2 separate regions of the Homo sapiens genome follow, and region 1 is linked to region 2. The links come from fine-mapping of genetic effects on gene expression. Tissue or cell type: whole blood. Region 2 holds a variant in brackets; the other region holds the start of a gene. All regions are shown on one strand. Distances are between the middles of the regions.

Region 1 (7,844 bases), 85 kb after region 2:
GCATGGCTGGTAATTTCAGAAAGAAGAGGGGCCGGGGTCCAGTGGGAAGCAGCGGTGAACCCCTCGTGAGTGGGCTTTGCAGTCCCTCCCCATGCCACGGCAGAGCTGCCCTCAACACAGCCTTCCTCTTCCTCATCGGAGAGCACACCCTGTCCCCTTGCCGAGCTGTGCCCTGTGCCTTCGGTGGTATTTGATTTTGGCTGCTACTGGCTTTGTTGGGATCTGGAAGTCGCTTCCCCTGCGTGGTGCGTGGAGCACTGTAAGTCAGATGAGGGAAGTAGCCAGGGTGAGGTGAGTACCGGGTGGAGCCGCCACTGAAGGGACTGGGTAGGGGGGCCTTGCCTCTACATGATGTGACACAGCCAACCGAGGACAGAGGAAGCCCCGTTCCTGGGGGTGTGGGGTGCACCCCTCAGGGAAGCCTGCAGTGGGGCCTGAGGAAAGGCATCCTCCGCGAGCCCACGAGTCTGGTCCATGAGCACCGTGACAGTGTCTGTGGGTAGAGGTGGACCCGGCCTTGTGTCATCACCAGGACCTCTTTTGGGAAACCATGTGGACATCGCTTGCGGGTCCCCCAGGCTCTGCAGCCCCAGCAGCCTGGCTGCCTTTTGGGCAAGTGGCTTGAGCCACAGAGGACCCAGTCCTGTTGCAGCCACATCCTCTGGGGGGGCCCGCCAGTGTGGCCGGCTTTCTCCACCCTACACCAGGCCTCCAGGTGTCCTGGTCGGGGGTGTCTGGGCCCTGGGTGGGCCCTGTGGACCTGTGAGGTCAGGGTCAGGGCATCACTGGAGGCAGAGGGCTGAAGTTGTGGGTCTGGGTTCCCCTTGTGTGCACAGGCCCCTGCCCTCCATGCTTGGTCAGGCAGCTACCCCCAAAACTGCTAGGACAGGCTGGTCCTGAGGTGGATCCTGGCCCCTGTACCCTCTGGACAGCCCACCCGCCCAACCTTCTACCCTGCCCCAGCGGCGGCAGTGTTGGCCACATCCTTCCCCTCCTGGCCCCAATTGCTCTGGGGAAGTCCAGGCTCCGGAGCCTGCCCAGGGGCCCCCCGTGATTTGGGCCCAGGACTCCACGTGGTTCTCTGCCTTCACCCAAGCCCTGAACTCCTCAGCTGCCAAATCCCCACCCATCTGCACAGGCTGTGCTCACCACTGCTGCTCCTGGAAGGTGCCCCTCAGTGGGACGCCCACCTCCTCTCTGGGCTTCTGTGTTTGGGAGCCCTGCTGCCCCCACCCTTGGTCAGTCCCCATGTCCTGCTGGCCTGTCAGGCAGGGCAGAAAATCCACCCAGAAATGCTGAGCAGGATGAGAGTCTAGTTGGGCCCAGCCTCATTATTTAGAAGGGATGGAGGCCTAGGGAGCATGCTTCTAGCCTGAGCCCAGCAGGGCCCCGCCCATGTCCCAGGTCTGCACCAGGGACAGCTCCTGCCGAGGCCTGACCTGCCCCTTCTCCCTCAGGTGCTGCTGGTTGACCAGCCTCTGGCCCTAGGAGACCCCGTAGCGACTGAGGGTCCCAGCAGGCCATGCAGCTTTGCCAAGGTACGAGCCCCTCCCCAGCAGGGGACAGATGTGGGGACCCTCCCAGGCAGGAGCAGCTGGGTGCCTGGTGCTGCCATCTGCTGCCTGCCTGGTTCTTGTCCTCACATTGGAGGTCAGTGTGAGGGCTCTGCCTCGGGAAAGGCCATGGAGCTTGCCCTGTCCAGGGCCTCCCATGTGCACTGAGCCTGGGAAGAGAGGGTTGGAGTTGAGCCTTTTACCCTGGGAATGCTGCCTGGAGGATGGTGCGGGTGTGGGGTGGCACCCTGCCAGGCAGGGCCCTGCCTCCCTGCGCCCACTGGAACTCGGGCAGGCAGGGGTGTAGGTGCCTCCTCTAGAGCCGTCCGGTGGGGGCCCCCGGCAGTGGTGGTGGTGTCCACTGGCCAGCAGCTGCCCCTTCAGCCAGGACAGTAGGCCTGACGCTGTCCCCAGCAGCTCCAAGGTGGATTTGTGGAAGGGGGTAGAGGGCACGTAGAGGCCCCATGACCTCCCCAGGGTTCTGGGAGGGCTGTGCCCCCTTAGCCAGCACCATGCTGGGTGATATAGTCAGATCCTGTTACCCCTGTTGTGGAGGTGAGGAAACAGGTTAGTGGGGAGGACATGACTAAGGTCCATGCTGAGTCGCTAGAGCTGCACCCAGAACCACTGCTGGGACCCCATGCCTTTCTGCTTACCCCTTGTGCCGGGAGATGCCAAGAGATGCTGGGAGCCAGCCCCACCTCTGCCCTTGGAGTCATGGCTACGGAAAGGGCATTCGGACCGGTCCCTGACCTCACCGGGGAGGGCCGAACCCTGTTCCTGAGGAGCCAGGGCTTCCTAGAGGAGGTAGGCCTTCTAGTCACTCCTTCATCTGCAGGCACTCCACAGAGCTCTCTGTGCCAGCCCCCAGCACGGAGGGCTGACCTTAGTCGAGTGGAGATGCCCCAGTGCCAGGCAGTAGGGATGATGTCTCCTGAGGCCCAGATGGAAGGGACTGGACTAGTCTCATGGGGCTGATGGTGGGGCCAGGCCTTGACCAGGGACCCAGTGTAGGGGGTGCAGAGACCCCTCTGAGTTCCTCACACATCCCTGGGGCCCTCCCCATACACTTCCTATCCTGACTGCGGGCAAGAGGGAGCCCCAGTTCGCCTTCCCTATGCTGGGCACCCACAGTGGGGCTGGGCACCCCCGCCATGCCCCTGCCCTGTCCTTCCCCTGAGAGCCTCGGTCCCACCTCCAAGGTGCCTCAGAGGACAGCAGGGGCAGCGGGCAGAGGCCGAGATGCCTCCTCATTCCAGGCTCAGCTGCCCTTCTTGGGGCAGCCCACACCTGAGAGTCTCCTGCAGTTGGTCAGGCCTGAGGAGGGCAGGGGGGTGCCTGCTGTCCCTCTGCTGACCACAGTGGCATTTAGCCTGGGCACCGCGCCCAGCACAGTCCATGCTGCACAGGTGCCGTGGGCTCCACAGAGCCCTGCCTGACATGCATGTGTTACGTTTCGGGTGCCGATGCCCTTGGGCGGCACTTCTCCGGGCAGAACCCCCAGGCCACCGCTCCGGTTCCGGTTCCGCTGCATCTGGGGCTCTCGGCAGGCTGTGGTCCTCCGGCCAGCCTGGGGGCATCTCAGTCCCTCAGCCCCACAGGGGCCTGCCCCGCAGCCTGGGCCTCGAGCCCCGTCTCCGCACGCTGTGCCGAATCTGGCTGCCCATCAGCTCCCTGCGTACCCAGACTGTGCCCTGCCATGCCCGTGGCTCTTCCCAGGAGTGCCCTGTGGCCTCCCCCTGGCTTGCTGGGCTGATTCCCTCCTGTGTCTCAAACAGAGCTCACCTTTGCCATCACTGCTGTCCTCACCGGCCGGTGCCAGAGGCCCGTGTCTGTGTACCCTGTGTCTGCACCTCTGGGCAGGGCCTGGCTCTGACCAACCCGGGCTTCCAGTGTCCACAGACCTAAGGCCCAGGGCGCCTGGGGGCTGGAGCAAGAGAAGCAAAAGGAGCCAAGGGTGGGGGTTTGGGGTTCTTGTGAGGGCCCAGCCCCAGGACCCCAGGACCAGGACACCCAGGAGCCCCAGGGCCCAGCCCCAGTTCAGAAGGCAGGGGCCTTCTGAGGGAGCTTAAGGGTCCCACAGCCCAGGACCCCCACCAGGGCCAGTGGCCAGCGTTGGGGGACTCAGCCTCCTCGTCGCTCGTCCTCTCTGTTTCTCCCACCTTTTGCCCCCTTTCTCCTTGCCTGTTCCCACCCGAGGCCCCCTCTTGGCCTGCGTGAGCCGGGGCGGCACTGAACTGGGGGCCGATCCGCCTGGGCGGCGGTGAGAGGCAGGGCCGGGAGCCGGGCCGCTGGGTTTGGGCCTGGCCCGCTCGCCGCAATATTGATGGCCCGTCAGTGCAGCCCTGATTCCTGTGCTTTCAGTTAAAAGGTTTCTGTTGTTGTAGCTTATGCAGTTGCTCTGTTGCTATGGAAACGTGACATCAAAATGACGTTTCCCGTTTAAAAGCTTTTAACTAAATTCCTGCCTGTCAGATGTAGGCCCCATTTTGAGCGTGGAGCTGCCTTCGAGCGAGCGTGAGCGGCGCCTCCCGCCCATGGTGCGTGGGGCCGGGCCGGGGCCCTCGCTGAGCGCGCTCTCTCACCCCACAGGCGCCTCCGGCATGGCGGCGGCCGAGGGGCCCGGCTACCTCGTGTCTCCCCAGGCGGAGAAGCACCGGCGGGCCCGCAACTGGACGGACGCCGAGATGCGCGGCCTCATGCTGGTCTGGGAGGAGTTCTTCGACGAGCTCAAGCAGACCAAGCGCAACGCCAAGGTGTACGAGAAGATGGCCAGCAAGCTCTTCGAGATGACCGGCGAGCGCAGGCTGGGCGAGGAGATCAAGATCAAGATCACCAACATGACCTTCCAGTACAGGTGGGCGAGCGGGCAGTGTGGGCCCCACCAGGACGGGCGGGCCCGGGCGTGGCGGGCCGCTCCTGACTTTCTTGGAGCTCTGAGTCGGGACGATGTGTGGGTCGTGGCCTGCCTGTCGGTCTCCTCTGGCCGGGTATGGGCAGAACCCCACGGGGTGAGACGGGGCCCACGGAAACCGTGTGTGCAGCCTTCCATTGGGGAAGTGGGGAAACTGAGGCCCAGCAAGGGCAGGAAACCAGTCTAAGAGCTGAGGGGTAGCAGGGGTGGGGCTGGTGCTGGGCAGAGGCCAGGATGGCTCCCAGGACGTATGGGCGGTCTGGGCACTGTCCCTCGGAGGCAGCAACACTCATGGTGGTGCCCACTGACCTCACACCCTGCTCCCCCATAGGGAGGCGGCGGCTGCCAGTGCCCTCCCCACCACCAAGCTCCCAAGCTCAGCAGGGGTTTCAGGGGCCTACTGCGTCATTGGGGAAATTGAGACTGCAAGTGAGAAGGAGGCTCAGTGCTCTGCGACTTGGAGCATCCACTGAGCCTCTGCCATGAGCCGGTGAGCCCCACTGGGGCTGGCCCTAGGGTCACGGTGGGGTATTTCCAGAAATCACCAGGTGAGGTGCAGGACCAGCCAGCGCATGGGTGGGGCTTACGGTGCGAAGAAGAAAGAGGTGGAGGCCTGCCCTGGCCCAGGACTCCCAGCGTGGGGGCTCCCGGCCTGGCCCCACCTCTGCTCCTGCTACATGGCAGGTGGGCCCTTCCTGCCCTGGCAACCTGCAGGGAAGGCCGGAGGGGACCACCCAGCCAGGGAGATGTTGGCGTCTAGGAGGGGACAGGTGTGGTCCCACACACCCAGCATCTTAAAGTGCGTGGGTCCCCAGCCCATTAGGACAGGGTCCCGGGTGGGCAGGGGTCATGGTGGGGTGAAGGTCTCAGGCACAGGCAAGGTCACAGGTGCGGTGAGGGTCTTGCAGGGTGTGAAGGTCATAGGTGTGCGGTGAAGGTCACAGGTGTGGGGTGATGGTTTTGGGTGTGGGGAGGGTCTTGCACGGAGCGAGGGTGGCAGCAAGAGCTGGAAGCTGCAGGGGGAGAATGGCAGCAGAGAGCACCCGGCCCTGTGGGCGGCCTGGACAGGGCTGGGCCTGGGGCTGCCGGAGAGCCTGTCAGCTTCCAGGATGGGAGTGGCCTCACTCAGCTGCTCCACCTCCGGGTCAGGCAGGTGAGCCTGGGGCAGAGAGGCTGAGAGCACCTGAGCCACTTGTGGGAGAGGCCACCCCCACTGCCCCCCTCAGGCGAGGAGCCGGCCTCCAGCACAGCAGAAGGGAACCCCCAGTCCCCAGCCCTAGTGGGAGTGGGGAAGAGGCCCAGCAAGGCCCCGGACAGACCGCCAGCCTGTGAGGTCTCCGCTTTCAGTTGCGTTGATTTGATTTTTTCTGAGCCTTGAAGGAGGGGTCCGGGGCCTGGCCCTGCCCAAAGGCCCCTAGGCAGGCCCCAAAGCCGGGACCTAGGGTGCTGAGCATGACGGATGTTGGGTTTGAGCGGCTGGCTTGCGACGTGAGGGCTGAGGTGTGAGCCTGGGTATCTTCAGAGGTTCGGTGGACACAGGCAGCTGCCCGCGGCCCCACTGTTCCCGTGGCCTCCTAGTCCTGCTCAGGCACCTGGTGAGGAAGGGACGCAGAGGGCAGTGGGAGGTGGCCACGACTGTTCCAGCAGGCTCCCCTCTGACTCAGGAATTCACGGGCACCACCTCCCTGGCTGGCTCTGGTTGGTGTCTGGCCAGGTTATTCATTATTTATGCTGAAAGCCTCTTCAGAGTCCCAGGGGAGGGTTTCTGTCTCCATTCCTGGAGGCTGAGAGATGAGGGTGCAGCAGAGTGGGGGCCTCCACTCCAGACCCTGCAGTCTGGGCTGGCCAAGGGCTGCACCGGTGCACTGCACGTCATGGCTGATGAAGCACTTCCACACCGCAGCCCCTCAGAGCTGCCACAGTCAGCCTTAGTTCACCGAGGGGGAAGCTGAGGCCCAGAGCATGAGAGGGACTTGCCCAGGGCCACATAGTCCTTAGCAGAGGAAGCTGTGGCTGGGTGACTCGATCTTTGTCCTTTTTCTTTATACCCGCAGTCTCCCCATAGCAGAGGCTTTTCTTTTTTTTTTCTTTTTCTTTTTTTTTTTTTTACAAGAACTCTTTATATATTAAGGCTGTTGGGCTGAAGAAGCCTGAGAGGGTGGCTGGTTCTGTGGAGCATGGTTTGTTGAAGTACAGTTTGGGGGCCTCCTACACTGAGAATAGGCCTTTTCTCGTTTCTCCAAAGAGTGGGCTGGCTCAAGTAGGGCAGAGAGAGAAGCCTGGGGCAGAGGTTAGGGATGGGCACCCAGCGCCTGCCCTCACACGCTCTGTGCTGGTGTCTTCACAGCCACGTGCCACCCTGGGCAGCATCCCCTGCTCACCATCTGGCTGTGCCTGTTTGCTGGGGGCACCTCATTCAGAATCCAGCTTATTGTTTCCAACGGCCAATGGCCACACCCTGGCAGGTAGCAAGAGTAGGAGAGAGGAGACACCCACTCCGAGCACAGGTTGGGTTTGGAGCCCGGCCTTGGGGCACTCTGTCACTCAAAGGCAGAGTGGGGAGTGGGCACTGGGCCTTAGGAGGTACTGGGTCCAGTGAGGCAGAGATGCCCCTGCCCCACCCCCACCTTGTGGCTTCTTCCCTGGCCTGGCCAGAGCTGTCTGGCCGCCATGGGGCCCTGTGTCTCCTGCCTTGACCTCCCAGAGGGCAGCCGAGGCCCAGGGGAGGCCTGGGGACTTAGCCTCTCAGGGCAGGACCTGTCTGCAGGAGTAGGTGGGTGCTGGGGGTCCCAGTGGTAATGAGGCATCAGGCAGTGTGGGAAGGGGCCCATCCGGCCCACCCCAGGGCCTCTGGGCAGGTTGCAGGTTGTAGCGCTGGATCTAGGCTCCTGCCCAGACTGTAGGTTCAACCAAGAATGGCATGGGAGCCCAGCCTGCTGTTTGCTTTATTAAATCTGCCCTGTAGCTGGGGGAGGGGCTTACTTTGATCATCACTATGTCATTGATATAAAAATAGAGGCTCAGAGAGGTGAATGAACCTGCCCAAAGTCACACAGCAAAGTGTGGAGATGAGATACTGACTCAGGGCTGTGGACACTGAAGCCTGTGCTCTAACGCCAGTGGCTGTCGCTCCCTGAGGCATTCTCTCCCGAACAACACAGTTATTATATTACAAAATATTATCACTATATTTATATATCTTATAATACCTTATTATTACAATAAAACCTTATTACTCTACCTTTCAAAATGAATTATTTAAAAAGCAGTATTTGCTCATTGCAGAGAGTCTAGAAACTATAGAAAAGCAAGGGAAAAGCAATAGGACCAGCCCCAAGGTCCCAGCATGCACAGATAACCTTAGTAATACTGGGACG
Region 2 (7,844 bases):
CACATCTTACACCTGATTTAATATTTTATTGTATCCAAATTGAACCAACCCTATGTGAATTTGACAGTGATTTCTCCCAGGGATCCTAGTGTATAAGGAATAGGACTTAGTATTTTCTATTTTTTGATATACCACATACCAGATACTGATTATGATGGACATTTAACCCTTTTTTCTCATTATGAAAGAAAGTTAGGAATTATTTCTTCCAGTAGCGCCAGTGTAACCTGAAAGCCTTTGAAAGAGTAGTTTTTGTATAGCTATCTGAAAGGAATTTCTTTCCAAAATATTTTTCCAGTGCTGACAACAAACACGCAGACACACCCTGCAAGGTGAGTGTACGGCGCCGCACAGTGGAGGCATCTGCTGCAGCCGTCGATGTTTGTGTCTTTGGTTGTACATTATGAGATCGTGACAGGGCCAGTAACCGTGTGTTCTCTCCTTCACCTTCCCAAGGTCACGCTGGATCTTCAGAACAGCACGGAAAAGTTTGGAGGGTTTCTCCGCTCAGCCTTGGATGTTCTTTCTCAGATACTAGAGCTGGCCACACTGCAGGACATTGGGAAGGTTTGTGTCTTGTTTTTTCTCCTTGGGTTGTGGCTGGCACACTTGATGTGCGTCTTCTGGGCTGAGTTCATCTAGGATGGAGCCTGGTTCTCCAGGGTGCCTCCGGGAGACTCCTCCCTGCCCCACGTGCTTGCGTCACAGGACCCAAGTCTGACTCTGCCTTAGCCATGAAGTTTAGGGGGAAGTTTCTATTTGTATTCTATTTTTGTCTGTTATCATGTATTAGCTTAGACCCAGTTTAGTTTGGAAAATCAGTGGGTTTCAAAATGTGTTTGTAGAGTCCTTTATTTCTTAACTTGACCTTTTCAAGTGGAAAGGGGCAAAACAGACGGGTAAGGGGGCGGGGCGGGAGGTGTGACTTGCTCTTTTGTGCCTGAGGAAGTAACAGAGCTGGGGTTGACAGTCATATTCTCTGACACAGATAGTCTCTGACTTATCTCACAGAAAGTCAGCGGCAGAGCCTGAGTTAAAAGTCTCGTAGATTTTCTTTTTCTTTTTTTTGGTGGCTAATTTCAGTTTTATTTATATTTGTTTATTTATTTATTATACTTTAAGTTCTGGGTTACATGTGCAGAATGTGCAGTTTTGTTACATAGGTATACACGTGCCATGATGGTTTGCTGCACCCATCAACCCATCACCTACATTAGGTATTTCTCCTAATGTTATCCCTCCCCCAGTCCCCTCACTCCCCATGGGCCCCGGTGTGTGATGTTCTCCTCCCTGTGCCCATGTGTTCTCATTGTTCAATTTCCACTTGTGAGTGAGAACATGCGGTGTTTGGTTTTCTGATCTTGTGATAGTTTGCTGAGAATGATGGTTTCCAGCATCATCCATGTGCCTGCAAAGGACATGAACTCATCCTTTTTTATGGCTGTATAGTATTCCATGGTGTATATGTGCCACATTTTCTTAATCCAGTCTATCATTGATGGACATTCGGGTTGGTTCCAAGTCTTTGCTATTGTGACTAGTGCCACAATAAACATACATGTGCATGTGTCTTTATCGTAGAATGATTTATAATCCTTTGGGTATATGCCCAGTAATGGGATTGCTGGGTCAAATGGTATTTCTAGTTCTAGACCTTTGAGGAATCGCCAGACTGTCTTCCACAATAGTTGAACTAATTTACACTCCCACCAACAGTGTAAAAGTGTTCCTATTTTTCCACAACCTCTCCAGCATCTGTTGTTTCGTGACTTTTTAACGATCGCCATCCTAACTGGCGTGAGATGGTATCTCATTGTGATTTTGATCTGCATTTCTCTAATGACCAGTGGTGATGAGCATTTTTTCGTATGTCTGTTGGCTGCATAAATGTCTTCTTTTGCGAAGTGTCTGTTCATATCCTTTGTCCATTTTTTGATGGGGTTGTTTGCTTTTTTTTCGTAAATTTGTTTAAGTTCTTTGTAGATTCTGGATGTTAATCTTTTGTCAGATGGGTAGATTGCAAAAATTTTATCCCATTCTGTAGGTTGCCTGTTCACTCTGATGATAGTTTCTTTTGCTATGCAGAAGCTCTTTAGTTTAATTAGATCCCGTTTGTCAATTTTGGCTTTTGTTGCCATTGCTTTTGGTGTTTTAGACATGAAGTCTTTGCCTATGCCTATGTCCTGAATGTTATGGCCCAGGTTTTCTTCTAGGATTTTTATGGTCCTAGGTCTTATGTTTAAGTCTTTGATCCATCTTGAGTTGATTTTTGTGTAAGGTATAAGGAAGGGGTCCAGTTTCAGTTTTCTGCATGTGGCTAGCCAGTTTTCCCAACACCATTTATTAAATAGGGAATCTTTTCCCCATTGCTTATGTGTGTCAGGTTTGTCAAAGATCAGATGATTGTAGATGTGTGGTGGTATTTCTGAGGCCTCTGTTCTGTTCCATTGGTCTATATATCTGTTTTGGTACCAGTACCATGCAGTTTTGGTTACTGTAGTGTTGTAGTATAGTTTGAAGTCAGGTAGTGTGATGCCTCCAGCTTTGTTCTTCTAGCCCAGGATTGTCTTGGCTATGCAGGCTCTTTTTTGGTTCCATATGAAGTTTAAAATAGTTTTTTCCAATTCTGTGAAGAAAGTCAGTGATAGCTTGATGGGGGGATAGCATTGAATCTATAAATTACTTTGGGCAGCAAGGCCATTTTCACGATATTGATTCGTCCTATCCATGAACATGGAATGTTTTTCTATTTGTTTGTGTCCTCTCTTATTTCCTTGAGCAGTGGTTTGTAGTTCTCCTTGAAGAGGTCCTTCACATCCCTTGTAAGTTGTCTTCCTAGGTGTTTCATTCCCTTAGTAGCATTTGTGAATGGGAGTTCACTCATGATTTGGCTCTCTGTTTGTCTGTTATTGGTGTATAGGAATGCTTGTGATTTTTGCACATTGATTTTGTATCCTGAGACTTTGCTGAAGTTGCTAATCAGCTTAAGGAGATTTTGAGCTGAACCAATAGGGTTTTCTAAATATACAATCATGTCATCTGCAAACAGGGACAGTTTTACTTCCTCTCTTCCTATTTGAATACCCTTTATTGCTTTCTCTTGCCTGATTGCGCTGGCCAGAACTTCCAATACTATGTTGAATAGGAGTGGTGAGAGAGGGCATCCTTGTCTTGTGCCGGTTTTCGAAGGGAATGCTTCCAGTTTTTGCCCATTCAGTATGATATTAGCTGTGGGTTTGTCATAAATAGCTCTTACTATGTTGAGATACGTTCCATCGATACCTAGTTTATTGAGAGTTTTTAGCATGAAAGGCTGTTGAATTTTGTCAAAGGCCTTTTCTGCATCTGTTGAGATAATCATATGGTTTTTGTTGTTGGTTCTGTTTATGTGATGGATTACGTTTATTGATTTGCGTATGTTGAACCAGCCTTGCATTCCAGGGATGAAGCTGACTTGATTGTGGTGGATAAGCTTTTTGATGTGCTGCTGGATTCAGTTTGCCAGTATTTTATTGAGGATTTTCACATCGATGTTCATCAGGGATATTGGCCTAAAATTCTCTTTTTTTGTTGTGTCTCTGCCAGGCTTTGGTATCAGGATGATGCTGGCCTCATAAAATGAGTTAGGGAGGATTCTCTCTTTTTCTATTGATTGGAATAGTTTCAGAAGGAATGGTACCATCTCCTCTTTGTACCTCTGGTAGAATTCGGCTGTGAATCCATCCTGGACTTTTTTTGGTTAGTAGGCTATTAACTATTGCCTCAAGTTTAGAACCTGTTATCAGTCTATTCAGAGATTCAGCTTTTTTCTGGTTTAGTCTTGGGAGGGTGTATGTGTCCAGGAATTTATCCATTTCTTCTAGATTTTCTAGTTTATTTGGGTAGAGATGTTTATAGTATTCTCTGATGGTAGTTTGTATTTCTGTGGGATCGGTGGTGATATCCCCTTTATCGTTTTTATTGAGTCTATTTGATTCTTCTCTCTTTTCTTCTTTATTAGTCTTGCTAGCGGTCTACCTATTTTATTGATCTTTTCAAAAAACCAGCACCTGGATTCATTGATTTTTTTTGGAGGGTTTTTTTTCGTGTCTCTATCTCCTTCAGTTCTGCTCTGATCTTAGTTATTTTTTGTCTTCTGCTAGCTTTTGAATTTGTTTGCTCTTGCTTTTCTAGTTCTTTTAATTGTGATGTTAGGGTGTTAATTTTAGATCTTTTCTGCTTTCTCTTGTGGGCATTTAGTGCTATAAATTTCCCTCTACACACTGCTTTAAATGTGTCCCAGAGATTCTGGTATGTTGTGTCTTCGTTCTCATTGGTTTCCAAGAAAATTTTTATTTCTGCCTTCATTTCGTTATTTACCCAGTAGTCATTCAAGAGCAGGTTGTTCAGTTTCC[A/C]TGTAGTTGTGTGGTTTTGAGTGAGATTCTCAATCCTGAGTTCTAATTTGATTGCACTGTGGTCTGACAGACAGTTTGTTGTGATTTCTGTTCTTTTACATTTGCTGAGGAGTGTTTTACTTCCAACTATGTGGTCAGTTTTAGAATAAGTGCAATGTGGTGCTGAGAAGAATGTATGTTCTGTTGATTTGGGGTGCAGAGTTCTGTAGATGTCTATTAGGTCCGCTTGGTCCAGTGCTGAGTTCAAGTCCTGGATATCCTTGTTAATTTTCTGGCTCATTGATCTGCCTAATATTGACAGTGGGGTGTTAAAGTCTCCCACTATTACCGGGTGGGAGTCTCTTTGTAGGTCTCTAAGAACTTGCTTCATGAATCTGGGTGCTCCTGTATTGGGGGCGTGTATATTTAGGATAGTTAGCTCTTCTTGTTGAATTGATCCCTTTACCATTATGTAATGGCCTTCTTTGTCTCCTTTGAACTTTGTTGATTTAAAGTCTGTTTTATCAGAGACTAGGATTGCAATCCCTGCTTTTTTTTTGCTTTCCATTTGCTTGTTAGATCTTCCTCCATCCCTTTATTTTGAGCCAATGAGTGTCTTTGCATGTGAGATGGGTCTCCTGAATACAGCACACCAATGGGTCTTGACTCTTTATCCAATTTGCCAGTCTGTGTCTTTTAATTGGGGCATTTAGCCCATTTACATTTAAGGTTAATATTGCTATGTGTGAATTTGATCCTGTCATTATGATCCTAGTTGGTTATTTTGCCCGTTAACTGATGCAGTTTCTTCATAGCGTCAGTAGTCTTTACAATTTGGCATGTTTTTGCAGTGGCTGGTACTGGTTGTTCCTTTCCATGTTTAGTGCTTCCTTCAGGAGCTCTTGTAAGGCAGGCCTGGTGGTGACAAAATCTCTGCATTTGCTTGTCTGTAAAGGATTTTATTTCTCGTTCACTTATGAAGCTTAGTTTGGCTGGATATGAAATTCTGGGTTGAAAATACTTTTTTTAAAGAATGTTGAATATTGGCTCCCACTCTTTTCTGGCTTGTAGGATTTCTGCAGAGAGATCTGCTGTTAGTCTGATGGGCTTCCCTTTGTGGGTAACCCGACCTTTCTCTCTGGCTGCCCTTTCCTTCATTTCAATCTTGGTGGATCTGATGATTATGTGTCTTGGGGTTGCTCTTCTCGAGGAGTATCTTTGTGGTGTTCTCTGTATTTCCTGAATTTGAATGTTGGTCTGCCTTGCTAGGTTGGGGAAGTTCTCCTGGATAATATCCTGAAGAGTGTTTTCTAACTTGGTTCTATTCTCCCCATCACTTTCAGGTACACCAATCAAACGTAGATTTGGTCTTTTCACATAGTCCCATATTTCTTGGAGGCTTGGTTCATTTCTTTTCACTCTTTTTTCTCTAATCTTGTCTTCTCGCTTTATTTCATTAATTTGATCTTCAATCACTGATATCCTTTCTTCTGCTTGATTGAATCGGCTGTCGAAGCTTGTGTATACTTCACAAAATTCTCGTTCTGTGGTTTTTAGCTCCATCAGGTCATTTAAGCTCTTCTCTACACTGGTTATTCTAGCCATTAGTCTAACATTTTTTTCAAGGTTTTTAGCTTCCTTGTGATGGGTTAGAACATGCTCCTTTAGCTCGGAGAAGTTTGTTATTACCGACCTTCTGAAGCCTACTTCTGTCAATTCATCAAACTCATTCTCCATCCAGTTTTGTTCCCTTGCTGGTGAGGAGTTGTGATCCTTTGGAGGAGAAGAGGTGTTCTGGTTTTTGGAATTTTCAGCCTTTCTGCTATGGTTTCTCCCCATCATTGTGGTTTTATCTACCTTTGGTCTTTGATGTTGGTGACCTACGGATGGGGTTTTGGTGTGGGTGTCCTTTTTGTTGATGTTGATGCTATTCCTTTCTGTTTGTTAGTTTTCCTTCTAACAGACAGGCCCCTCAGCTGCAGGTCTGTTGGAGTTTGCTGGAGGTCCACTCCAGGCCCTGTTTGCCTGGGCATCACCAGCAGAGGCTGCAGAACAGCAAATATTGCTGCCTGATCCTTCCTCTGGAAACATCGTCCCAGAGCACGAAGGTGTCTGCCTGTATGAGGTGTTTGTTGGCCCCTACTGGGAGGTGTCTCCCAGTCAGGCTACATGGGGGTCAGGGACCCACTTGAGGCAGTCTGTTCATTATCGGAGCTTGAATGCCGTACCGGGAGAACCACTGCTCTCTTCAGAGCTGTCAGGCACGTATGTTTAAATCTGGAGAAGCTGTCTGCTGCCTTTTGTTCAGATGTGCCCTTCCCCCAGAGGTGGAATCTAGAGAGGCAGTAGGCCTTGCTGAGCTGCAGTGGGCTCTGCCCAGTTCGAGCTTCCCTGCTGCTTTGTTTACACTGTGAGCATAGAACCACCTACTCTAGCCTCAGCAGTGGTGGACACCCCTCCCCCAGCCAAGCTCCTGCATCCCAGGTCGATTTCAGAGTGCTGCGCTAGCAGTGAGCAAGGCCCCATGGGCGTGGGACCCGCTGAGCCAGGCACAGGAGAGAATCTCCTGGTCTGCTGGTTGTGAAGACTGTGGGAAAAGTGCAGTATTTGGGCAGGAGTGTACTGCTCCTTCAGGTACAGTCACTCATGGCTTCCTTTGGCTTGGAAAGGGAAGTCCCCCGACCCCTTGTGCTTCCCAGGTGAGGCAACACCCCGCCCTGCTTCGGCTTGCCCTCCGTGGGCTGCACCCACTGTCCAGCAAGTCCCAGTGAGATGAACTAGGTACCTCAGTTGGAAATGCAGAAATCACCTGTCTTCTGTGTCGATCTCACTGGGAGCTGTAGACTGGAGCTGTTCCTATTCGGCCATTTTGGAAGCATCCCTTGTTTTTTGAGGTGGAGTCTTGCTCTGTCGCCCAGGCTGACGTGCATCGGCACAATCTCGGCCCACTGCAACCTTTGCCTCCTGGTTTCAAGCGATTCTCCTACCTCAGCCTCCGGAGTAGCTGGGATTACAGGCACCTGCCACCATGCCTGGCTAATTTTTTGTATTTTTAGTGGAGATGGGGTTTCACCACATTGGCCAGGCTAGTCTCGAACTCCTGACCTTGTGATCCACCCACCTCAGCCTCCTAGAGTGCTGGGATCACAGGTGTCAGCCACCACGCCCAGCCATATTTTCAGATCTCCCTCTCTTTGCCCTAAACCACTGTGCTTAATAAGTAGTTTTTAGTGGCCAGCAGTCTCCATGTATAACACATTTTAGCAAAATGGAAAATACTATATGTTTTAAATTTGAACGTGAGATTATACTGAAATAAAAATCATCTAACTGGGATTCTTTAAATAGTAAGATTTTCTTTTTTGTATGTGGGTTTTTTTTTAACCTTATTATTATGACTGTCATATATAGAAATGGCTGTTTTTCAGTTACAGTCAGTGAATGTATCAAATGCTGCCTTATCCAAATAAT

What was found. PIP is the estimated chance that this variant, and not a neighbour inherited with it, causes the effect.
Region 1: it holds the start of MSANTD1, and the variant in region 2 is fine-mapped to the expression of MSANTD1 in whole blood (TOPMed, PIP 0.94).

What each region holds. Positions count from the first base shown.
Region 1 is chr4:3,245,133-3,252,976 of GRCh38, forward strand. It overlaps MSANTD1 (Myb/SANT DNA binding domain containing 1), which reads left to right and starts at 4,027. Exons shown (of 3, transcript NM_001042690.2): 1 at 4,027-4,410. The coding sequence starts at 4,091. RefSeq lists a silencer at 1,405-1,580 and an enhancer at 5,545-6,441.
Region 2 is chr4:3,159,826-3,167,669 of GRCh38, forward strand. It overlaps HTT (huntingtin), which reads left to right. Exons shown (of 67, transcript NM_001388492.1): 29 at 457-567. Among named protein-coding and RNA genes, the nearest start is that of MSANTD1, 85 kb to the right of the region's middle. The variant A/C (reference allele first, on the strand shown) is at 4,395.